Homo sapiens: one gene and its partners. The protein of the gene in region 7 interacts with the protein of the main gene of each other region in a pairwise test. Each region holds a gene or a part of one and is shown on either strand. Other genes may lie near its edges.

Region 1 (3,500 bases), on a different chromosome or scaffold from region 7:
GTATAAATAATAAACTTAAAAATCATCCATAACAACACCCAGAAATAGCCACAAATGAATATTTTGAAGTCTTTTTCCTTCTTTTTCAGTATTTTCTTTTTTTCTTTTTTTTTTTTTTGAGATGGAGTCTCGCTCTGTCGCCTAGGCTGGGGTGCAGTGGCGCGATCTCTGCTCACTGCAAGCTCTGCCTCCCGGGTTCACGCCATTCTCCTGCCTCAGCCTCCAGAGTAGCTAGCTGGGACTACAGGGGCCCGCCACCACACCCGGCTAATTTTTTGTATTTTTAGTAGAGACGGGGTTTCACCGTGTTAGCCAGGATGGTCTCGATCTCCTGACCTCGTGATCCGCCCGCCTCGGCCTCCCAAAGTGCTGGGATTACAGGCGTGACCCACTGCGCCTGGCCTGTATGACCCGTTTTACATGAAATGGCCAGACTAGACAAATCTACAGAAACAAAGTAGATTAGTAGTTGCCAGGGGTCGGGGAAGGGGAGAATGGGAAATGACTGCTACTGAGGTTTTTTTTTGGGTGATGAAAATGTTCTGGCGTTAGATAGTGATGATGGTTGCAACAACTTTGTGAATTTATGAAAAAAACACTTAATTGTACACTTTTCACCCCACTTCCTCTGCCATCTTGGTCCTGCTGTCCTGAGGAGCTACCTGTGCACCCTGCCTCCGGCTCTCCTGAGCAGAGAGGTAAGCTTGTCTCTGCCTTAGGTGGAAATGGCCACTAGAGTCCACTTGCTCAGCACTGACTGCCTTTTCTCTCCCACCTGTTCCCACTGGTTTTCTCCCTGGGCACTCTCACTTGCCCTTGTCTGTGCACTGGAGGCCGAGACTGAGCTGCAGGGTTTGGGCCTCAGGCCCGTTTGGGAGAGGAGGCTCCTGCTGGGTAGGTCCGGGAAGGGTTGACAGGCTGAGTAGGGAATGACTCTGCTCTGCCACAGATCCTGATGGCTGACTCAGAAGCACTCCCCTCCCTTGCTGGGGACCCAGTGGCTGTGGAAGCCTTGCTCCGGGCCGTGTTTGGGGTTGTTGTGGATGAGGCCATTCAGAAAGGAACCAGTGTCTCCCAGAAGGTGAGTCCTTTCTTCCTCCTCCTTCCCATCAAGCTTTCTTTCTTTTCTTTTCTCTTTTCTTTTTTCCTTTCTTTTCTTTCTCCCCCCCCCTTCCTTCCTTCTTTCTTCCTTCCTTTTTTCCTTTCTTCCTTTCTTTCTTGACAGAGTCTCGCTCTATCGGCCAGGCTGGAGTGCAGTGGCACAATCTTGGCTCACTGCAACCTCCGTCTCCCGGGCTCAAGCAGCTCTCCTGCCTCAGCCTCCCGAGTAGCTGGGATTACAGGCATGTGCCACCACGCCCGGCTAATTTTTGTATTTTTAGTAGAGACGGGGTTTCACCATGTTAGCCAGGCTGCTCTCGAACTCCTGACCTCAGGTAATCTGCCTGCCTCGGCCTCCCAAAGTGCTGAGGTTACAGGCGTGAGCTACCACGCCTGGCCCAAGCCTTCTCTTTCTCTTTCCAAATCTGGCTCAGAACTTTCCTCCTTTGATAAGATTTCTCCCCAGAATTCATCCCTGCCCCCCTGGGTACCTCAGGGATTTACATTCTGGGTCTTACTGTGTTCACTACTCTTGTTCATTTTCAGAGTTTTGCTTTGGAAATATCCCGAAGTTGTTTTTAGTGCAGGTTGGCCGTGTCTCGTGTCTGTGGAGGTGTGGTTTGACAGCCAGTCCACAGGCATCCCAGGCCCCCAGCATCCCCGGCTCTCTTCCTAGGTCTGTGAGTGGAAGGAGCCTGAGGAGCTGAAGCAGCTGCTGGATTTGGAGCTGCGGAGCCAGGGCGAGTCACAGAAGCAGATCCTGGAGCGGTGTCGGGCTGTGATTCGCTACAGTGTCAAGACTGGTGGGCCCTGGCTTCTGTGAGGAGGAGACTTGGGAGTTTGCCCTGAGCTCTACTCTGAGCTCCCTGGCTTACTCTCCTTCTCCAGGTCACCCTCGGTTCTTCAACCAGCTCTTCTCTGGGTTGGATCCCCATGCTCTGGCCGGGCGCATTATCACTGAGAGCCTCAACACCAGCCAGTGAGCATCCCAAGGCCCCTCTACCATCCCACAAAGGATTTAGGTTTGCTAGAGAGGTGCCTGAGGGGTAGGGGAGGAGAATGGTTCTGCCCTCTCTCTACTGCTTCTGGGAATCCCTGTCGGCAGAGAGTTTTTCCTCATATCCTTTGGACCCACTTTCTCCAAACTTTCTCAGGCCTCCTGACCCCTGTTTTCTCTTTCTTGCTTCCCTGGTTCTGTCACCAACTCGTTCTTCTCCTTGGACTGTTGCTTTGCTCACTCTTCACTGCCTCCTTTTTGTGACTCCTGTGCAGTTTAAGGGCCTGTCTGGGCAGTCCCTCCCCATCTCTCCTTTCTCGTCGTTCTCTCTCCTGGCAGGTACACATATGAAATCGCCCCCGTGTTTGTGCTCATGGAAGAGGAGGTGCTGAGGAAACTGCGGGCCCTGGTGGGCTGGAGCTCTGGGGACGGAATCTTCTGCCCTGGTTTGTGAGAAGGAGGAGGACCTTTCTTTGCCCTTTTTATGAGTTCCTCCTCCCCCACCGTTCTCTTGCTCTAGTGTCTGGCAGGGAGGGATGATTCCTCTTTGATTCCTCTCCAGCTGGACCCAGGCCAGGCCAGGGAGGCGGCTGCCTGGTCCCTTCATGCTCATGTTTGTCACCATTCCCTGGGGTCAGTGGTCTAGTTCCTGCTATCTCCGGACGGGGGCTGTCTCTTGGGGGCAGCCCCAGATGTGGAGAGGTGTGGTCAAGAGGATCTGCTGATCCTGGATCCATTCTGGGATGGTATGATCCTGAGAATTGTGGCCTGGGAGCCAGTCATACCTGCTTCTTTGATGAGCTCTTCTGGTAGAAAGGGAAGGGAGGCAAGCTCCAGTCTTGACCCACTGCTCCTTCCTCTTGCCACCGCCCCCTCCCTGTGACAGGTGGCTCCATCTCCAACATGTATGCTGTAAATCTGGCCCGCTATCAGCGCTACCCGGATTGCAAGCAGAGGGGCCTCCGCACACTGCCGCCCCTGGCCCTATTCACATCGAAGGAGGTGGGGAAGAGGCACAGGCCCAACCCTGGGCTCCTGATTCTAATCTCCAGCCAGCTAAGTAGAGACCTTCCAGGTCTTCTCCCTGCCCTCCCTACATCCTCCAAGGCCAGCCTGCCCCCAGGCGGATGTGCTTCCTTCCAATCAAGGAGGTCAAGTAACTGCTCCTGTTCACATTGCCTTCTGTTTGGGGGCAGAGGAGGGGCCGTGAGTGCAGTGGACACAGTCCATACTCTTCCTACTCAAGAGTGTGGTCTGTGGACCAGCAGCATTGGTATGACCTGGGGCTTGTTAGAAATGCAGAATCTGGCCGGGCACGGTGACTCACGCCTGTAATCCCAGCACTTTGAGAGGCTGAGGTGGGTGGATTGCCTGAGCTCAGGAGTTTGATACCACCCTGGGA
Region 2 (3,500 bases), on a different chromosome or scaffold from region 7:
TTGGGAAGCCACTATTCTGCCATTCACTCTGGCTTAACTTTTTTTTTTTTAATTGAACTTTTCACTGAAACATAACAATATGGGGAAGGTGCCCACATCACACCTCTAGGCCACTGTGGGGTCAGGGTAGGGGCAGCACACACCCAGGTCATGGCTGTGCAGAGAGGGCTGGGTACCAGGGCAAAAAGAGAGTCCTGCCATGAAGGAGGAGGAGGGAATGCATTTGTTCATTCATTAAGCATGTATATTGAGCTCTTGCTGTGGGCTATAGATACAGTGGTAAGCAAGGTGGACGGAAACCCCTACCCTCAAGGGGTTCCCAGTTAGTGAAATGGACAAAATAAGGCAGACCAAAGCACTCTAATATGCCACGGGTCATTTTTCTTCCTCTTAGTGATGTACATTGCAGCTATTCCTGTTTGTGGGGAGCAGTTAGGTTCCTTTACATCTAGAGTGAGGTGGCACAACAGCATATGCTGTCGGGAAGAAGCTGGGTATCAGCCAACTTTCCCCATGCAGCACGTTTTTCTCTGTTGCCACCTGGCATTGTGGAGGCCACTGTAGCTGGAGCCTGGGTGCCACACTGCTCCTTCCAAGTCCAGTGCCTCTGTGTGTCTGAGTGCTCTCTCCTGGGCATCCGCTCTGCATCCTCCTCTGTGCTCCCCTCACAGACTCCATTCATACTCCTTGTGCCAACTGTTTTTTCCTCCCTCTCCTCTTCCTTTCCTTATTCTGTTCTTTCCTCTTCCTTTCCTTATTCCTTATTTTCCTCTTCCTTATTCTGTGTTTCCCTCTCTTCCTTTCCTGGTTTGCAAAACTATATTTTTAAATGGTCAAAGCCACTTGAACCTTGAACGTTTCAAAATAATTAGTTTTATCCTTCCTCTTCCCATCTCACCACAAACTCTTTTGCCGTGGAACAGAGATTAAGGGACATTTCCAGTTTTTGCTTCTTTCAGACTTGGAAACTAGACCCAAAGTCAAACTGTCAGTTCTAAAGCAAGGCATCTCTGAAGAAATATCCAACAGTGTCATCTTGGTAGAAAGATTCCTGTGGGATGGTCTGTGGTACTGCAGGGGTGAGGACACTGAGGGCCACTGGGAATGGAGTTGTGAGAGTCTAGAGAGCCTGGCAGTGCCGGTGGCCTTCACGCCTGTGAAGACGCCTGTTCTGGAGCAGTGGCAGAGGAATGGGTTTGGGGAAAACATAAGTCTGAACCCTGATCTCCCACATCAACCAATGACTCCTGAAAGACAAAGCCCCCACACATGGGGAACACGTGGAAAAAGGGAGAAGCCAGACCTAAATGTTTTACAGAAAACCTGTGTAAAAGAGAAACCCTACAAATGTCAGGAATGCGGAAAGGCCTTTAGTCACAGCTCAGCACTTATCGAACACCACCGGACGCACACAGGAGAGAGACCTTACGAATGTCACGAATGCTTAAAAGGCTTCCGGAACAGCTCGGCACTTACCAAACACCAGAGAATCCATACTGGGGAGAAACCCTATAAATGCACTCAGTGTGGGAGGACCTTCAACCAAATTGCCCCACTGATCCAGCACCAGAGAACTCACACAGGTGAGAAGCCCTATGAATGCAGCGAATGTGGGAAATCCTTCAGTTTTAGGTCCTCCTTCAGCCAGCACGAGCGAACTCACACAGGCGAGAAGCCCTACGAGTGCAGTGAGTGTGGGAAAGCCTTCCGGCAAAGCATCCACCTCACCCAGCATCTGCGAATCCACACTGGGGAGAAACCCTATCAGTGTGGTGAGTGTGGCAAGGCCTTCAGCCACAGCTCATCCTTGACCAAACACCAGCGAATCCACACAGGGGAGAAGCCCTACGAGTGCCATGAGTGTGGAAAAGCCTTCACCCAGATCACACCACTGATTCAGCACCAGAGGACCCACACAGGAGAAAAGCCCTATGAGTGTGGTGAGTGTGGGAAAGCCTTCAGTCAGAGCACACTCCTGACCGAGCATCGGAGGATTCACACAGGAGAGAAGCCCTATGGATGCAACGAGTGTGGGAAAACCTTCAGCCACAGCTCCTCACTCAGCCAGCATGAGCGGACACACACAGGAGAGAAGCCCTATGAGTGCAGTCAGTGTGGGAAGGCCTTCCGGCAGAGCACACACCTCACCCAACACCAGCGAATCCACACAGGGGAGAAGCCCTATGAATGCAATGACTGCGGCAAGGCATTCAGTCACAGCTCGTCCCTCACCAAACATCAGCGAATCCACACTGGGGAGAAGCCCTACGAATGCAACCAGTGTGGCAGAGCCTTCAGCCAGCTTGCTCCCCTCATTCAGCATCAGAGGATCCACACAGGAGAGAAACCCTATGAATGTAACCAGTGTGGCAGAGCCTTCAGCCAGAGCTCCCTTCTCATCGAACACCAGAGGATTCACACCAAGGAAAAGCCGTATGGGTGCAATGAGTGTGGGAAATCCTTCAGCCACAGCTCCTCGCTCAGCCAGCACGAAAGGACGCACACTGGGGAAAAGCCCTATGAGTGTCACGATTGCGGAAAGTCCTTTAGGCAGAGCACCCACCTCACTCAGCACCGGAGGATCCACACAGGAGAGAAGCCATATGCATGCAGGGACTGTGGAAAGGCCTTTACCCACAGCTCCTCCCTTACCAAGCACCAGAGAACTCACACTGGATAAACCCACTCCACATGTGCTGGGGACATAGGAAGACCTTAAGCCATAGCTCATCCCTTTCTAGATTTGACCCAATCATACACATGAGAAACGTACATTCATACACAAGCCTTTTCACACAGCACTCCCCTCAGACACCCTCAGAGAGTTCACACTGATGGGAAATGACCATGGGACCACCAAGCTCTAGGTCATCCATCTCTGCATCCAAATAGTAGGGAAACGTGGAGATAATCAACACTCAGGACCTTCAGCCTTGAACGCCCATTAGTGCTATGTTATAGAACCTACAAAAAAGAAATGGAACAAATGTAGTGGATCCAGGGAACGCTTTTGTCCAAGGATTCACCGTATTCCAAACCAGAGATGTTCAAATTGGTGAGAAACCCAACAAATGCCTTTCATATATACGAGAACCAAATGAAGTCAGAATTTGCCATTATTGCACATCACATTTTTGGGGGGGAAAGTGCTTATGAATGGTGCAGGTTGACTCTGATATTCATTCCCAAATGACAGTATGGCAGAGTGTTCCAGAAATGAGAGTGGCATCTTTATGGAATCACTGTGGATACTGACTGTCTCAGTAAACAGCTGTCTTGTCTGTGTGTATATTGTTTGATCAGGGTACATGGCAGCCAGTCACAGATTGGAATTACATATGACAAAGTATCAGTGTACTATAAACAGGTTTTTAGTTATCCCTGCATTATTTTTGCAATTAATCTTTATATGCAATGAGATTGAAAAGCTTTGTATGGGAAGACTCAAAATGTAAAGCTGCTTCCGTAGAGTCTCACTGATTCTGAGATGGCTTTTGCTG
Region 3 (4,044 bases), on a different chromosome or scaffold from region 7:
GGCTCCTGGGATCTGTCTTGAGTGGGAGGCCTAGGAGTGACAGGGGAGTTGGGGGCCTGGACTCTGGGGTTCCAACCTTGTTGTCCAGCTTGTAGGCTCTGAAGGTGAGTTGCACATAGTCGTTTGTGCCTGATACCTCCTCGGCCACGATCTGCAAGGGGGATACAAGTGGCAGGACTCCCCTAACCTTACCACAAGGGCCACCCCATCCCCTTTCCCTTAGGTGGGGGTGGTCCTGGGCATGATGTCACCATAGGTGTCCATGCAGGGGCATTGAATACCTGGACCAAGGGTGAGTACAGGTGATCTTGCCTACCGTGATGGTGGACTTGCCCGCAGTCTTCCCATTCTTCAGCAATAATGGCTTAGTGACCTTGGTTTGTGACACAATCTGGGGATGGAGGTGGAGGGAGACCCAGCTGTGACATCCCCATCTGCCTTGGCCACGTACAAGGGATGGAATAATAAATGCTCTGAGTGTCTGCAAGGGTTGGCACTTTGAGTTGGGCTAGGGTTGGGCTCAATTTTTACAATAGTCTGAAGAGGGAAGCACTCTGACCACTCCTCCATTTTTTAGATAGGAAAACTAAGACTCAGAGAGGTTAAGTATCTTTCCTGAGGCTGCACAGCTAGTGAATGGCAGAGATGGGAGCCAAGGCTGGGTTGAACTAGCTCTAGAGCTCATGTTTTCTCTCTTTTTGGCTTCCAGAGGCAAAGCTGATGGAGGTAGGGTAGGGTAGCCGGGGAGGCCGGGAATGCAGACCTGGCCCAAGGTGCACTCCGTAGAGCCGAGGAAGGTATCATTTCGGGGGCTGGTGGCTCCGTCCTCGGCATCGAACACGTGGAACTGCAGGGGCTGCTTCTCCTCAAAAAAATACTCAAGGGCCAGCACCCGGGAGAAGACAGGGCTGGAACAGGAGCGAAGCACCTCTGTGCGCTCTACCTGTGGTAGTGGTTGAAGGGAGGCGAGGGCTGTCTGGGAACCGAGGATACTTTTCCCTGTCCTGGACTGCCCTAGTCATGCCAGCTCTTCTTGGGCCCCCACGTCCCCAGCAACCAGCTCTTCTCTTCCTAAGCTGATCCCTGAGCTTGGGGTGCTGCCTGCCCACTGGACTCTCAGTCCTCCGGGCTATCATGAGGCCTTTGGGAGCAACCCCACTGCCTCTGGGTCAATCTCAGGACCCTCTGGGACACCATCTCCAGGGTACCCAAGCGGCCTCGAGAAGGCGCCGCAGAGTCCACACATTTCCCTGCAAGGCTTTCACTGCTCCCACCCAGCCTCCCTCTTTCCCAAGCTTAACCCAGGTTAGTTAAGGAGAAACCTGAGCTGCTCTCACCTCCACCCACTGCTCATCAGAGTAGAGCTTGAGCAGCACGCAGGGGTGGGGTTTGGTGAGTGTGTCCCGGTCCAGGAGGCCATGGCAGGACACCCGCAGCTCCACCCGAGAGGCCCCCAGCGTCATGGTTGGGGGCTCAGGCACCCATCCCATCTCAGGGTCCGACATGTCACTGTGGGGACAGAGCAGGTGGCCTGGACTCTGGAAAGGGAACACCTGCCAGCAGAGGGGTCTATCCTCTAGGGTCCCTGGGCCCCACCCCTTAACCTCCTTCCCTAGACCCTGGGGCCTCACGGACCTCCTGCTTCCTCAGCTTCACCAGAGTTCTGAGCAGGGGAGGGCAGAGGACCTGAGCCTCCCACTCCTGCTCAGAAGCCCTGTGCTGCTGGCCTAGGTATGCGTGGATGGGGCTGGAGAGGGCTGAAGGATTGGGGTGGGGATGTTCCTGGCAGTCTTGGCTCCTAGGCCATCGATTGATCTACACTTTCTGCCGCCTCAGCACCTTCTGCTATTTCCCGACTGGTGTTGTGCCAGCGCTGCACTCAGTCTTGGCACGAGGGAGCTAAACTAGGGCAAGGGGGTGGGGCAGGGGGTGGAGAGGCCTCTGGAGTTCTGAAGAGGATGGGTCTCAGAAGTGGAGTCTGCAGTGGGCAGGAGACAGGTTGGAAAGTCCCCTGCTGGGCTATCCCTATCCACTCCCTACCCCCATTCCCCTTCTGGCTAGCTGATGGAAAAGGAGTGGTGGTGGGCTGGGAGGCAGGACCAGGGCTCTGCTGAAAGCTCCTTCAGGCTCCTGGCAGGAGCTCTAACTGTGACAAGCCTCACATCCCTCCCCACCTCCCCTGTTTTCACACTTCTTGGCAGCACTGGCACCGTCTCTTAGCGACAGGATTTTTGGGGAGTCGTGGCTCCCTCCATGCTGCCCGTGGGATGCACGCATGCCACCTTCCCCCAGCAGTGGTACCAAGCCTCGGGCTGAAGCAGGCAGGGGTATGCCGGCCAGAGTTCATGGCCGGTCAGTCCATCTATCTGTGTCTGTACAGATCTCAGGGTGAGGCTGTCTGATCCCATGTCATGCTTCCCCGAGTGAGTGTGCATTGGTGTGTCTGAGTGCCCCACCCTCCGTGTCTGTCCCCCCATGTCGTGTGTCCGTTTCCAGGAGGGTGTGACAGTTCCTGTACCTCCCTCAGAAGTGGGACCTTTCTCTGGCTGGGTATCTACCTCCCCACAGTGTGTGCCTTTCTGGATATGTGAGGGAGGGTCTGGGCTGGGGGAGGGGGGTCTCTGCCTTCCAGCCACAAGTCTCCCAGTTCTTGGGGGTCCCCGAGATAGGCAGGGGCTTGTGGTGGTGAAGGGATTGGGCAGGGCTGGGATCTCTCTGCGGGCTCCAGGAGATGTTGTTATGGAGACTGGGCCAAGCTGGGCTGGGCTGGGGCTGGGCTGGGGAGGAAGGGTGGGCTCACCTGGGCTCTCGGTCGGGGGCTCCTCTCTCCGGCTCTCTGGCCCTGGCCCTGACTCCCTTGCTGCTCCAGCCGCTGGCGCCGGCTCCAGCTCCGGCTCTGCTGCTATTTATGGGGCCTGGATGGGGAGGGGTGGGGGGGGGCGCAGCACCAGCTCCCCCCGCGTGGATGGATTGGGAGGGAGAAGAGGGAAGGGGCAGGGCCACAGCCTGGGAGGGAGCCACAGAACCGGGGGAGGAGGGCAGGCTGGGGGTGGCTTAGAGGCAGGACCCCCACAGACACAGTGACACACATCTTCCCCTTCACACTACACCCACACCCAGAATCGCAGAGATGCGCACATTGCAGTGGCATGCACATACACATTCAAACAGAGAAATGATGGCGACACATGCACCCACGACTCACAGGCTCACACATATCTTGACACACACAGGCGCCAGTACATAAACTCACTGTGACACCACGACAGTTACAGCCCCCGGCGGATACACATTGGGAAACATACCCCTTCTCACATCACTTTCAACATTGTTACACTAGCTAAGGATATCTGCAGTCACATATACAGGAACACTGGGCTGTCCTTGTCACACATGTACTCACTCAAACTAACCCGGAATACAGCAGGATGTGATCTTCCCGTGCTCCTTAAAAGCCATCACATACCTTGCTGAACGTCATAGCTTTGAGAATGATGTCCAGTTCCCTAGCCACCATTTTATAAGGAGACACAGGAAATGGACATAATTGCTTAAGGACACCCAACCTCATATCCTGGTCACATGAGGGCATCTGCTGAAGGACTGACTCCCAAGGCTTCTTCCCGGTGCCACAATGTACCCAACACCCCCCAAGATTCAACCCATATGGCCTTACCCTTGTGGGAGGGGCTGTGCCATGCACAGATCTTAAGGAAACAAAACAAGTAATTCCTGGTGAAATCAGTAAGTAAGGGAAGTAAGCAGTTGCCTGGGGAGCTGCAAACCACACATGAAGACATTTGGGCACATTGTGGTCTGCGATGAGTACGCAAGAGCATTTACCTTCGCCCTCCATCCCCTTAAGCTGCTCATGTATTAATATAGCAGCCATTTATTGAGCATCTCCTGGGTGTCAGGCACTGTGCCAGGTGCTGGGGCTACACAGGTGATTAAGACACAGCCTCTGCCCCTGGGGGAGGCAGATGTATATGGAACAGAAAGACAGGCAGACAGAGAGAGGATAAGCCAATACGCATACGCAAT
Region 4 (3,500 bases), about 58 Mb from region 7:
GTTTGCCAGGCTGGTCTCGAACTTCTGACCTTAGGTGATATGCTTGCCTCGGCCTCCCAAAGTGCTGGGATTACAGGTGTAAGCCAGTGTAAAGAGTTAAATGTACTCTTTAACTTTTTGGTCCACCCAAGCGTGGAAGTGGCAAACCACTATAAAACTTTCATGAATTACAAAAAACATGGGGGAAGAAGGGATTGTCAGTTTTAATTAGTGAGACTATATTCAGACAAGTATAATTTTATTATTTTCAAACAATGTTTGGCAATTAGAACCAGGCTAATAGAGGATTGCCTAAAGACATCTTTATATAACTTACTTTAACACACGATTTGCAATTAGAATTAGGGAGTAGGTCTTTATAAAGAGCTTGAAGGAGCCTGGAAAGACTTTCTACATAGATAAAAATTAACCTCAGTCCAGCTTCCTATATGAATTATTAGAAATAGTCCAGATTACTGAAGATTTCTGTTCTGCTATGGGTGGCAGTGGTACAAAAAGGTGACCTGGAGGATGATTTTTTTTTTTTTTTTGAGATGGAGTTTTGCTCTTGTCACCCAGGCTGGAGTGCAATAGTACGATCTTGGCGCACTGCAACCTCCACCTCCCGGGTTCAAGCAATTCTCCTGCCTCAGCCTCCCAAGTAGCTGGGATTACAGGCGTGCATCACCACGCCCAGCTAATTTTGTATTTTTAATAGAGACAGGATTTTACCGTGTTGGTTAGGCTGGTCTCAAACTCCTGACCTGAGGTGATCCCCACCTCTGCATCCCAAAGTGCTGGGATTACAGGCGTGTGCCACCATACCTGGCTAATTTTGTATTTTTAGTAGAGATGGGGTTTTACCATGTTGGTCAGGCTGGTCTTGAACTCCTGACCTCAGGTGATCCCCTGGCCTCGGCCTCCCAAAGTGCTGGGATTACAGGCCATGGTGCCCGGCCTGGAGGATGAATTTCCTAGGAGCTTTCACCGTTGGATCTGAGGTTAAGATGCTCAAGGATCTTTAATACTTCCCTCATTTTGCTGTGTTTTTGCCTTCTGTTACTTTCTTCTGAAGGGCTTTGGGGACATTGAGGACAGGCCAAATTGTTGAAGAATTATTTAGAACCCACTGTCTTCTCGCTGTCCTTTTGATGTCCGGCTTCTCCAGTTATGAAATACATTTGGTATTGGTCATGATCTCTTACTGAGCTAATGTTATGGTCCATTGTTGGAGACAGAGTCAAATAAAATTCGTGTTGAACTTTGGTAACAAAACCAAATCTGTCCCCTTGCTTAACCAACATTGACTTACAGAGAGCATATACTTCCTAGAAAAATAGATGTTTCTCATAGCTTTCCGTTAAGAGAGCTTTTCCCTCAATATTCACTGGAAGCAGCTACTAAGAAGATTTATATAGGAACCAAAATAAACATAGGTGAGTATGTTTTTGTTGGCAGATACATGACTAAATTAGTCCCTGGGGTAGACATGAAATAGGGTTAAGACCTTTTTTTTTTTTTTTTTTTTTTTTGAGACCAATTCTCGCTCTGTCCCCCAGGCTGAAGTGCAGTGGCGCGATCTCGGCTCACTGCAAGCTCTGCCTCCCAGGTTCACGCCATTCTCTTGCCTCAGCTTCCGGAGTAGCTGGGACTACAGTAGGCGCCCGCCACCACGCCTGGCTAATTTTTTTGTATTTTTAGTAGAGACGGGGTTTCACCATGTTAGCCAGGATGGTCTCCATCTCCTGACCTTGTGATCCGCCCGCCTCGGCCTCCCAAAGTGCTGGGATTACAGGCGTGAGCCACCGTCCCCGGCCTAAGACGTTTTTAAGAGTTCTTTTTCTTAGAAAGATTGAAGATCTGGTATTGGACAAAGATGAAAACTTTGGAATTCTTTTAACAAAGAACATAATCTGTCTTCTACCATCCCCAATTTAGGGGGTAAAAAAAGGAAGTTCTTCTTTGGGCACTATGTTGTTGTATCTGACTTCATATGTCTGTTGTTGAAATTGAGTTGGGAACTTCCCCTTTGTCAGCTGTGTGGTATCAGTGGGAAAATGCAGAAACATTATGACTTGCAATAAGTTTTTCTTATGGAAAATTTAGGGATAACTCAAAGCTGCCCTTTCTGAAATTTGATCTGTTATCAACTGTATAAATCTAAATGGAAAAATAGATTAACGACAGTCTTTGCCTGAGGGACCTCCTCAAATCAAGAACTACTGTTTGAAATGATCAAGTGTCTGCTAAGACTTGCATCTGAATGGGTGATGTCACCCTTTGGCCCAGAACAAATTTTTTCCAGGGTTGTCTAAATATAGGACACATACTTTGCCATCTTTGTTTGTTAGTGCAAATGTACGTTATACATCTATACTAGTTAAAATCACTTTATTTTAACAGAACCAAGTTCTACTCCAAGTTCAAGAAATTGATTGTTGTTTTCTTTGAAAACATGTTAATGACGTTTTAAAAATACGCTTATTCAAAAATCAAACAATAGGGCCAGGTGTGGTGGCTCATGCCTGTCATCCCAGTGCTTTGGGAAGCCAAGGTGGAGGATCGCTTGAGGCCAAGAATTCAAGATCAACCTGGGGAACATAGCAAGACCCTATCTCGATGAAATAAAAAATGAGCTAGACATGGTGGTGCATGCGTATAGTTCCAGCTACTTGGGAGGCTGAGATGGGAGAATTGCTTCAGCCCAGAGAGCTGTGATCGCACTACTGTACTCCAGCCTGGGCAACAGAATGAGACTCTGTCTAAAAATATACATATATATATATCTCTCTCTTATATGTATATATTTATATATATCACATATATAAATATCAAAAGATATCAAATATATAGATATATAAATATCAAATATATAGAGATATATAAATATCAAATACAGATATATAATATCAAATACATAGAGATATATAAATCAAATATATATATAAATAAAATATATATATATATCAAACAATAAGGTATATAAGGTAGAGTGAAAGCCCCTGGTCACCTTATTTCCCAGAGCTGTCACCACTGATAGTTTAATGAACTCACTTTTTAATATGTGTGTGTGTTTAACATCGCTGGGATCTTACTGTACCTGGGTGCATTTGTTACCATGTATGTTTCGCTGACTCTTATTGTTGTGTGCTGGAACTTTCTGGGGTGATAGTAATCCAGTTGGGCAGTCATCAACACATGGAGCACTTGCATGTGACAAGTGTGACTGAGCTGAATGTTTTTATTTTATTTGAATTAATTTAAATTTAAATAGCTCCATGTGACTAGTGGCTATCATACTGGACAGCTCAGATCATATTCAGTCTTTGAATTTTGTTTATAAGCTTTCTTGGTACTCAAAAATTTCTGTATTTTATTTCCTGTCTTTGGTAGAATATGTCTAGTTTTCATTCTTTTTTTCTTCTGTGGATTATCTGTACACTTTTTTTTTTTTTTTTTTTTTGAGACAAGGTCTCACTCTGTCATCTGGGCTGGAGTGCAGTGGCACAATCTCAGCTCAC
Region 5 (2,750 bases), on a different chromosome or scaffold from region 7:
CTCAAAAAAAATAAAATAAAGATAAAATCATAAACACTCATAATTCAGTTATACCTTTTTTCAAGTAACTAAAGTTCAAACTTACTTAGGGGAACAGGCTTTCCTGGGTGCCACCTGCTTCTCAAGTCCTGTGCTTTCCACACCACAGAATAGTAAACTGGGTGCACTGAGTGCCTGGTTCCCCTCAGCCCTTAACCAGTGCTGGCTTGTCCGAGTTTAGAATCCCAGGGCTGACTTTGTTGGTGGAATGCTAGCTCCCATTCATTTCCCACCTGCACTGGACGTTTTCTGAATCTCCTTGAAGTCCGGGAGATCTTCATTCCAAAGCTCTTCACTTTTCTGCAGCATTGTGACCCCATCTGGCTGGGGAACTGGAAGTCCTGCTCAGAGAAAAGCAGGAGGGGACATGGAGTTCTGAAATTCACTTTCTGCTCCCATGTCTGGAAGTGACAGGTGAAATGAGAATGATAGTGCCTCTCAAGAAGGTCTAGTTCCCAGAAGAGAAAGTTTAATGACTCATTTTCCCCCTTTTACTCCTTTGAGGGTACAGGATAATGCCCTTATCTATTTTCATAATAATTATAATGATGATGATAATGAAAACTAACGTTTGCCAAGTGCTAATACTGTGTCAGGATCCTCATAACAGCCCAGGGAGGTAGAAACCATCACAATGTCCACTGTCCAGATGAGAAAATGGAGGCTAAGGGTATTTAAAGAGGTTGCCCAAGAACAACAAACCTTTTAAATGGCAGACTGGTGTGTATAATCTACGCAGGGTTCACATCTATGGAACACTTTATTTTAAATTCTTTTAATAATATTATTATTTTTCAGCTGAGTCTGGGTCTCACTCTGTCGCCCAGGCTGGAATGCAGTGGCATGATCACAGCTCACTGCGGCCTCCAACTCCTGGGCTCAAGTGATTCTCCTGCCCCAGCCTCCCGAGTAGCTGGGACTACAGGCTTGCGCCACCATGCCCGGCTTATAGGGCACTTTAGATGGAAACAAATGACTGGATCTTTAACTCCTACCTTTCTCTCCTCTCTTCCTGTAATGTTGTTACTGAAGGCAGGAAGGGAGACTCCTTGGCTAAAGAGCAGAGCAAGAGCCTCAAAGTGGTCTTTGTGAGCCACCCTGGACTACTGGTTCAGTAGAGGGTTGAGTCAAGCAATATTTGAGGACGGGATATAAACAGTATTTCTTAAAGTTGTCACCAATTTTTCCCCCGATGAGGCCATTCCAGACCCAAATTAGTCATAACAGAGCCAGGACAATAATCACATCTCCTGATTCTGAGCCTGAATGCTTCCCACAGGACTGCGTCGCTCCCACTGCTCTGAGGTCCATTGTGGGGGAGAGTTGCCACTGGGATTCCACCTCAAGGCCTGGGGACCAAGCCTCCAGGATTCCTCTTGAGACTCCTCCACTATTTCATTACCATCCCGCCACATCTTCTAGTGCTATGCCCTGGTTCCCTTTGGAATCCTCTCAATCCCAAAGAAGGCCTCCTACCACCTCTAAGGCATCAAAGGTGTTAGAAAGTGCCCCAAGACTCAACAGGGCATCCATCTCATCATAGAAGACACTGGTGCCTGGTGTGTAGGTGCTCCTGGCTTTGCAGTAGTCGGTCAGGAGGTTTTTGAACCGATAGCAACATTGCTCCAGGGTCCACAGGAAGCCATGTTCTCACAGCTGCTCAGCCATAATCCGGTACACCTGGTGGTTTCGATGGCAGGTGCGGAGTTTTTCGTGGATCCAGGCCTCTGAGAATTCCCAGAAAAATCTTGGTTTCTTTGTATCCCCAGTGCACTCCTGCCACCTTCTCATCCTCCAGGGCCTGCCACTCCAGCTCGCTCCAGGTCTTGGCTTTTCTCCAGATTAGCACCTGGCCAGACTTGACTCTCACCCCAGCCACTGAGCAGTCTTTCACACTCTCTTTTTCTCCAGAATTTGAAGATCTAGATGCTGTGGGTTTTCATCCTACTCCACGTGGGAGTTCACTTTGGGCCTATGGATTGGAAAATCTGTTTGCAGGCAGACAAAAGGGAGATGTAATGGTTTGGTAAATCTAATCCCAACCATTTTATATGCCAGGGAGAGGAGATAGTAATTTTTTTTTTTTAATTCTGGGGGGATTCTTGGGAAAGCTCAGTGAAAAGAACAACTAGAAAAAAAAATTCAGGCCCAAATGCATAACTATATATCCACGTTCATCTATCTTAAATAAAATTCAGACACATACCTAAACTGACCATCTCCCTAAAATGAGCTTTCCTTTCTGGGTCAAGAAATTCATCCTTGGTGAAACTGACTATGGTATTGGATTTCCTTTGAGTAAGATTTAAGGAAGAAATAGATTTGAAATATTCAACCCAGGGGGAAAGGGTGGGAGCAGGGGGGTGAGGGATAAAAGACTACACACTGGGTACAGACTGAGGGGATAAAAGACTGCACACTGGGGCCCCGTGGTGGCTCAGGCCTGTAATCCCAGCACTTTGGGAGGCCGAGGCAGGCAGATTACTTAAGGTCAGGAGTTCAAGACCAGCCTGGCCAACATGGTGAAACCCCATCTCTGCCAAAAAAAAAAAAAAAAAATACAAAAATTAGCTGGGCGTGGTGGCACATCTCTGTAATCCCAGCGACTCAGGAGGCTGAGGCAGGAGAATCACTTGAACCCGGGAGGCAGATGTTGCAGTGAGTCAAGATCATACCACTCCACTCCAGCCTGGGTGATAGAATGAGACTCA
Region 6 (3,500 bases), on a different chromosome or scaffold from region 7:
ATGGAAGCACGTCCATAGTACCTGGGCTACAGCTTGAAGGAGCTCTCAGTGAACTAATCTGGGACGAGTTGAGCAATGAGATAAATAGTGATAGTAAAGTGTTACCCATATGATAAATCTACACTGATCTACTATAGATCTACACTGATACAACTAAATGATTAAATAAGTAAATAAAATAAATAGAGGAGAAAGGGCAGTTCTTGCTCACATTAGAACTCTAATAAATGTAGAAGGAATGAAAATAGAAAATTACTTTTAGTCAAACATCACAGTAAGTTATAAGCAAGAATTATCAACAGATGCTAAAAATAGTGACTGAAAAAATTATGGAAGTATGATGAATCTTTATTTGCATAGTCTTCAAACTGTCTCTTCAAATGGTACTTTTTAGTGACAAAATGGTACATAACACTTTGTGGTAGAGAAACCTGGCAGAGAACACCTTAACCAAGTGATCAAAGTTAAGGTCACAGCACCAGAAAAAGTCATGTCAACATCATGAATCCCTTAATACAAGACACTGAAAATGGCAGAACATCACTTTGGTGACATTTGCAAAAAAAAATGTATAACTTCAATCTAATAATAAGGAAACATCAAAAAACCCAAATTGAGGGATATTCTACAAAATCATAGCCAGTCAACTTCTAAAATGTCAAAGACATGAAAGACAAGGAAAGAATAAGGAACTATCAAAGATGCAAGGAAAATACAGAAACATAATGACTAAATGCAATGAGGAATCCTGGATTGGGTCATGGAGCAGAAGGACATTAGTGGGAAACTGGTGAAATGTGAATAAGGAGTGTAAATTAGTTATCACTCTACCAATGTTAAAATCCTTGTTCTATGGTTATGGAAAATTTTAACTTTAGGGGAAATGATATATGGGAACTTTCCATACCCATTGTACATCTTTTCTGTAAGTGTATTTCAAAATAAAGTTATTTTTAAAGAAAGCCAGTGACCCAATTTGTAAGACAGCCTTAAAGAGAAACCAGGCTTTAAAAAACGTATATGAAAAAATGTTCAAGCATAGAAAACAAAAATTTAACCCATATTGTAAAGTTCAGCATAGCTAACTACCTAAAAACTGCTTTCCATTTCATCTTTTTCCTTGCACACAAGGGAACAACACCCTGGACATGGCTCCAGAGATCAACTTGCCGGGCCCAATGAGCCTCATTGATAACACTAAAGGGCAGCTGGTGGTGAATCCAGAAGCTCTGAAGATCCTATCTGCAATTACGCAGCCTGTGGTGGTGGTGGCGATTGTGGGCCTCTATCGCACAGGCAAATCCTACCTGATGAACAAGCTGGCTGGGAAGAAAAACGGTGAGTGACACCAGCAAAGCTCTAAGCCCCTTCTGTCCGTACACACGGCGAACATCCAGCTTAGGGATGTGAGCATAGAAAGAGATGAGAATGAATGTTGAAAGCTAACTTTCAGTCCATTAATGGGCTCTTTACATTGACTTTGGAGGATTACAGTCAACTGACTCTTCCCACTTTACTTTTATTTTATACTAAGGGTATAAATGTGCCTTTCTGGAAGGAACACAATGTTAATAAAGAAAATTAACTTCTATAATAATGACTTATAAAACATTTATTAAAATGTTCATGTAGTGACAGCAAGCTTTCAATGAACTTTAAGAAAAATATGAATGTTTCAGTGTGTATTAAATATCTAATTTTCCTGTTTCCAGGATTGTAATTAAGATTTATGCCAGTTGTATTTTCTTTTATCTCTTTTAACTTCAATTATGTTAACTTTTATCTCAATTTCCAGAAACACCTACTAAGTAATTTCTTTTCCCTTTTATCCTCTCCTTCTACAGGCTTCTCTCTAGGCTCCACAGTGAAGTCTCACACCAAGGGAATCTGGATGTGGTGTGTGCCTCATCCCAAGAAGCCAGAACACACCCTAGTTCTGCTCGACACTGAGGGCCTGGGAGATATAGAGAAGGTAAAAAAAATAAGTATTTTAAAAATTTCACTTAGGTAGATTAAAATCTACATAAACCAGGTCAGATCGATAACCATCTTTGCACAATCACTCCTACTCCTTGATTTAGGGCTCTAGTTAATTATATTAATATATTATTTCTTAAAATTTGTGTGGTATAAGCATTCAGAGTACACAATAAGTTCAATTGATTAATTATGGGTAAACCTATGAAATAATGGCTAATGATGTTTTCAGTTATTTCTCTTTCATATTATAGTAAAATGTTTTGGTGAGGCTGCTGAAGGTGCTTATAAACTTCAGTAGACGTTTTACAAACATGTCTGACTTTTTACAGTGGGATCCCACAAAGGTAGTAAAAATGTTCACATCCACACCAGCACCAGTAGAAAGAGAAGCAAAGTGTAAAATCTAATGATAACATCTTTGCTCATTAAGGATAATATATTACTACTGTTATAAATCTTAGACATAGAAAGCTTTTATTAAAGGAGCTTATTTTAACTACTGTGTAAAAAATATCTTACTATGATGTGCCATGGAAATGGAATAGGGTCATAAACTAAGTTTAGGGTACCAGTTTGAATTTTAGTAGCTGATCAAAATAGCTTCTCCTACCAAGTGCTCATGTGTTTCCTGCTGACATATATTTATATATAACACCTTAAATTATACATCATAAATATTATAAATTTGTTCTACAGGTAGAAAAAAATACTGCATAAGGAAGTGAGTTACCTAAGTTTTCAGAACTAATGAGAGACAGAGTTGGAGTTCAGTCAGTCTTCAGCTATCTGAATTGATTGTACATTCTGCTAGTCATTCTTCTTTGTGGCTTCTACAATGACTTACAGGGTGACAATGAGAATGACTCCTGGATCTTTGCCTTGGCCATCCTCCTGAGCAGCACCTTCGTGTACAATAGCATGGGAACCATCAACCAGCAGGCCATGGACCAACTTCAGTATCCTTTTTTGTGGTCCAGAACAGCAGTAAACCTAGAAAATAACAGCTTCATTTTTTCACCAAGTACAGAGGCAGACAGACAGGTACTGAAGAATTCATAAGTCCTCTCTTTAATAAATCTCATTATGCTGAACATCTCATTCTATCTCAATCTCCATCTGAACTTCAAGTCTTCCCAGTTACATGTCTCGTTAGATACTCAGCCACCCAAGACTCTGTATATCCTCTATCTGACTTAATCTCCTATGCCTGTCCAAACCTTCAATGTCCTCTAGAACTCATGTTCTCACTTCTGCAACTCTCTATATTCTTATCATCTGCTCTAAGTGTTGCCTTCTAAATGATACCTAGCTATACACTATAGATACTATTTCTCCTACAGACCTCTCCAGTGGTCTTATGTGATGACTATTTTTAATCCCATACCTTGCATATCATAAGTGTAAGAGATGAGTTAGGTATCCTCCTTGCTCCATATTAGAGTTCTGGACACTTTCTCATTCCTTTACCATTAAAAAGAGAATCTTCTTTAATATATATGCCCTCAGACTACACCACTATT
Region 7 (3,500 bases):
ATGAAGTTTGGCTTTTATTAATTCATTATAACACTTTCAGTACATTTACTTTCTCAATTTTATTAGACTTAGAATAATTTTAAAATTAGAATGCTTTCTGATGGAAAAAGAAAGTAGGGTGGTAGAGTGTGGTTAGTCTGAGATTAAGGAGGCATTCATATATTATCTATTCTGTGATAATAATGGTGATCAAAAGTTGATAGTCTTCTGATCAGCAAACATAACACTGGAAATATCTTTTAAAAACTGCAGTCTGTACCAGAAAGTTTGAAAGTTATGTTCTTCAAAAGGTGCTCATTTCCATTTGGAAAAGTAAACAATAACCTGCACATCAAGTGATGTTAAGACATTACTATTTTTTTGGTGTGATAATGGTACTATGATTTTCATCAAGTATTCTGATCTTTTAGAGATACACATTAAGTATTTACAAACAAAACGATACGATGTCAGGGATTATGCCAAAATAATATGCAGGAATATTCTATATAATATAGTGCAGGAATTTAGACATAATAAGCAGTCAGGAGTTGATAACTGCTCACGCTGGGTGATGAGTACATGGGGATTCATTACACTCTCCTGTCCATTGTTGAAAAGATGGCTCATGTAAAATAAATGGAGCTAGTGTGGATAAAGACAAATATCCCTATATATATATATATATATATCTTTTGCATTTGAAGAAAACACTATTAACCTAAAGCAAATGTAAATAAACAGAGAAAAAAACAAACATTCAAAAGAATACCCTCTTAGCCTGATCAAATCTAAAACACGGCCAGGCGCAGTAGTTCACGCCTGTAATCTGAGCACTTTGGAAGCCAACGCAGGTGGATCACTTGAGGTCAGAGACCAGCCTGACCAACATGGTGAAACCCTGTCTCTATTAAAAATACAAAAATTAGGGCCGGGCGCGGTGGCTCACGCCTGTAATCCCAACACTTTGGGAGGCTGAGGAGATCACAAGGTCAGGACATTGAGGCCATCCACGCTAACACAATGAAACCCCATCTCTATAAAAAATCCAAAAAATTAGCCGGGTGTGGTGGCATGTGCCTGTAGTCCCAGCTACTTGGAAGGCTGAGGCAGGAGAACCCCTTGAACCCAGGAGGTGGAGGTTGCAGTGAGCCAAGATTGCACCACTGCACTCCAGCCTGGGCCACAGAGCAATACTGTCTCAAAAAAAAAAAAAAAAGGCTGGGTGCAGTGGCCCAGGCCTGTAATACACCCAGCACTTTGGGAGGCTGAGGTGGGCGGATCAACTGAGGTCAGGAGTTCGAGACCAGCCTGGCCAACATGGTGAAACCCTGTCTCTACTAAAAATACAAAAATTAGCCAGGCGTGGTGGCATGTGCCTGTAAGCCCAGCTACTCAGGAGGCTGAGGCAGAATTGCTTGAACCCAGGAGGCAGAGGTTGCAGTGAGCCAAGATCACACCACTGCACTCCAGCCTGGGTGATAGGGCAAAACTCCATTTCAACAACAACAAAAAAATCTAAAATACTATTAGTGATCAGATATAATATACCTGGCAAATACATCTATATAAAGTCAGTAATCACTTTTTTGGCATCTACAAGAAAACATTGCTACAAGTGGAGAGTGAATGATCAAAGGTTTAAACCAGGCTTTTAAAGGTGCTAGACACAGATAGGCAAGAAAGTAGAACAATGTTATTTGCAAGGCAAAAGGTGAGACGTAACTGTGAGACGGATGATCACCAAAATAGACTAAGGAGCAGATTAAGACAGAAGTCAATCAGGAGGCTTTCTGTATGTGTATAATAAAATACTCGTCATTCTCCACCACACCACTCTTAACATCCTTTATCTGTCAATAGCACCACTACTTAAATTACCTAATACTCCAGTATAGTAAGAAACCCAGTATTTTTCTCTTCTTTTTTTTTTTTGAGACAGAGTTTCGCTCTTGTCACCCCAGCTGGAGTGCAGTGGTGCAATCTCGGCTCACTGCAGCTTCCACCTCCTGGGTTCAAGCAATTCTCCTGCCTCAGCCTCCTGAGTAACTGGGATTACAGGCGCCCACCACCACACCCGGCTAATTTATTGTATTTTAGTAGAGACAGGGTTTCGTCATGTTGGCCAGGCTGGTCTCGAACTCCTGACCTCAGGTGATCTGGCCGCCTCGGCCTCCCAAGGTGCTGGGATCGCAGGCATGAGCCACTGCGCCCGGCCAAAACCAGTGTTTTTCTATCCATCCTTTGAAATGCCTCTTCTGTAATTTCTGTTCTCATGGTCATATACTTAGACCAAGTTTCATCACTTGATGCCTGTCTTACTAAAACTCCTCCTCTGTTTATATTCTTGCTTATACTCTGTCACCCTCCCAATTTTCTCAGACACTGTCACTAGCTAAACTTTCCTAAAATGCTGCTCTTTCAGCAAATTGCTCTTCAGCTCAAAAATCATCAATGACTACTGCTGGAGTATCAAATGAAAATTAATTGGCCTGATATACAGGTCTCCTTAGTACTGGCTCCAATTATTATTATTATACATATATTTTTGAGATGGTTTCTTGCTCTATCGCCCAGGCTGGAGTGCAGTAGTGTGACATCAGCTCACTGTAGCCTCGAATTCCTGGGCTCAGATGATCCTCTCATCTCAGTCTCCTGAAGAGCTAAGACTACAGGTGCACACAACCATACCTGGCTAATTTTTTGTATTTTTAGTAAAGACGGGGTTTCGCCATGCTGCCCAGGCTGGTCTTGAACTCCTGGGTTCAAGAGATCCACCCGCCTCAGCCTCCCAAAGTGCTAGGATTACAGGCATGAGCCACCACACCCACCCTCTATTTATCTATTTAACTCATTTCTTACCAACACCTAACCCTCAACGTGAAATCTCTATCACTTGAACCATTCCCAGCATTCCTTTGCTTAAGCCATTCTTATCATTAACTGACTTGGCCCTCAAGCCTGGGCTTACTCACCCCTCCTATCTAGCTCAAGTCTCCTCTCTTCCTTCTTTGAACAACGTAGTTGACTAAAATAGTGTTTCTCAATGTTTTCTTTTTGAGACAGTCTTGCTCTGTTGCTCAGGCTGGAATGCAGTGGCACAATCTCGGGTCACTGCAGCCTCCACCTCCTGGGTTCAAGCGATTCTCCTCCTTTAGCATTCCAAGTAGCTGAGACTACAGGTGCGCACTACCACACCTGCTTAATTTTTGCATTTTTAATGGAGACGGAGTTTCACCATGTTGGCCAGGCTGGTCACAAACTCCTGACCCCAAGTGATCTGCCTGCCTCAGCCTCCCAAAGTGCTGGGATTACAGGCGTGAGCCACTGTACCTGGCCTCAAACTTTAATGTGTATATGAATCCCTAGGGATCGTGTTAAAATAGAGATTTTAATTCAGTAGCTCCAGGATGGGGCCTGAGATTCTGCATTTCTAAAGCTTTCAGGTGATATGGATTCTGCAGGTCTGTGATTCACACTCTGATACCAGAATACTTTGGGATTTCTGGATCTACACCTAA

What was found.
Region 1: the proteins of ANXA7 (region 7) and CSAD interact in a two-hybrid assay, tested with the Homo sapiens proteins (one large-scale study listed by BioGRID and IntAct).
Region 2: the proteins of ANXA7 (region 7) and ZNF135 interact in a two-hybrid assay, tested with the Homo sapiens proteins (one large-scale study listed by BioGRID and IntAct).
Region 3: the proteins of ANXA7 (region 7) and CPNE6 interact in a two-hybrid assay, tested with the Homo sapiens proteins (one large-scale study listed by BioGRID and IntAct).
Region 4: the proteins of ANXA7 (region 7) and NMT2 interact in a two-hybrid assay, tested with the Homo sapiens proteins (one large-scale study listed by BioGRID and IntAct).
Region 5: the proteins of ANXA7 (region 7) and WDR73 interact in a two-hybrid assay, tested with the Homo sapiens proteins (one large-scale study listed by BioGRID and IntAct).
Region 6: the proteins of ANXA7 (region 7) and GBP2 interact in a two-hybrid assay, tested with the Homo sapiens proteins (one large-scale study listed by BioGRID and IntAct).

Annotation. Positions count from the first base shown.
Region 1 is NC_000012.12:53,170,926-53,174,425, reverse strand, and holds part of CSAD (cysteine sulfinic acid decarboxylase), read left to right. Parts: intron 1-655; coding exon of another isoform or gene 656-698; intron 699-949; coding exon of another isoform or gene 950-955; coding exon 956-1,081; intron 1,082-1,777; coding exon 1,778-1,904; intron 1,905-1,989; coding exon 1,990-2,080; intron 2,081-2,437; coding exon 2,438-2,544; intron 2,545-2,551; exon of another isoform or gene 2,552-2,984; coding exon 2,985-3,100; coding exon of another isoform or gene 3,101-3,249; intron 3,250-3,500. UniProt on the Homo sapiens protein: Catalyzes the decarboxylation of L-aspartate, 3-sulfino-L-alanine (cysteine sulfinic acid), and L-cysteate to beta-alanine, hypotaurine and taurine, respectively. The preferred substrate is 3-sulfino-L-alanine.
Region 2 is NC_000019.10:58,065,782-58,069,281, forward strand, and holds part of ZNF135 (zinc finger protein 135), read left to right. Parts: intron 1-923; coding exon of another isoform or gene 924-959; coding exon 960-2,680; 3' UTR 2,681-3,500. UniProt on the Homo sapiens protein: Plays a role in the regulation of cell morphology and cytoskeletal organization. May be involved in transcriptional regulation.
Region 3 is NC_000014.9:24,070,398-24,074,441, reverse strand, and holds the start of CPNE6 (copine-6), read right to left. Parts: upstream 2,801-4,044; intron 1,510-2,800; coding exon of another isoform or gene 1,506-1,509; coding exon 1,338-1,505; intron 944-1,337; coding exon 764-943; intron 392-763; coding exon 317-391; intron 152-316; coding exon 77-151; intron 1-76. UniProt on the Homo sapiens protein: Calcium-dependent phospholipid-binding protein that plays a role in calcium-mediated intracellular processes. Binds phospholipid membranes in a calcium-dependent manner. Plays a role in dendrite formation by melanocytes.
Region 4 is NC_000010.11:15,162,194-15,165,693, reverse strand, and holds part of NMT2 (glycylpeptide N-tetradecanoyltransferase 2), read left to right. Parts: intron 1-3,500.
Region 5 is NC_000015.10:84,638,785-84,641,534, reverse strand, and holds the end of WDR73 (integrator complex assembly factor WDR73), read left to right. Parts: 3' UTR 1-2,250; downstream 2,251-2,750. UniProt on the Homo sapiens protein: Component of a multiprotein complex required for the assembly of the RNA endonuclease module of the integrator complex. Associates with INTS9 and INTS11 in the cytoplasm, stabilizing the INTS9-INTS11 heterodimer and blocking the active site of INTS11.
Region 6 is NC_000001.11:89,119,615-89,123,114, reverse strand, and holds part of GBP2 (guanylate-binding protein 2), read left to right. Parts: exon of another isoform or gene 1-1,131; 5' UTR 1,132-1,148; coding exon 1,149-1,338; exon of another isoform or gene 1,339-1,844; coding exon 1,845-1,972; exon of another isoform or gene 1,973-2,826; coding exon 2,827-2,936; exon of another isoform or gene 2,937-3,500.
Region 7 is NC_000010.11:73,404,059-73,407,558, forward strand, and holds part of ANXA7 (annexin A7), read right to left. Parts: intron 1-3,500. UniProt on the Homo sapiens protein: Calcium/phospholipid-binding protein which promotes membrane fusion and is involved in exocytosis.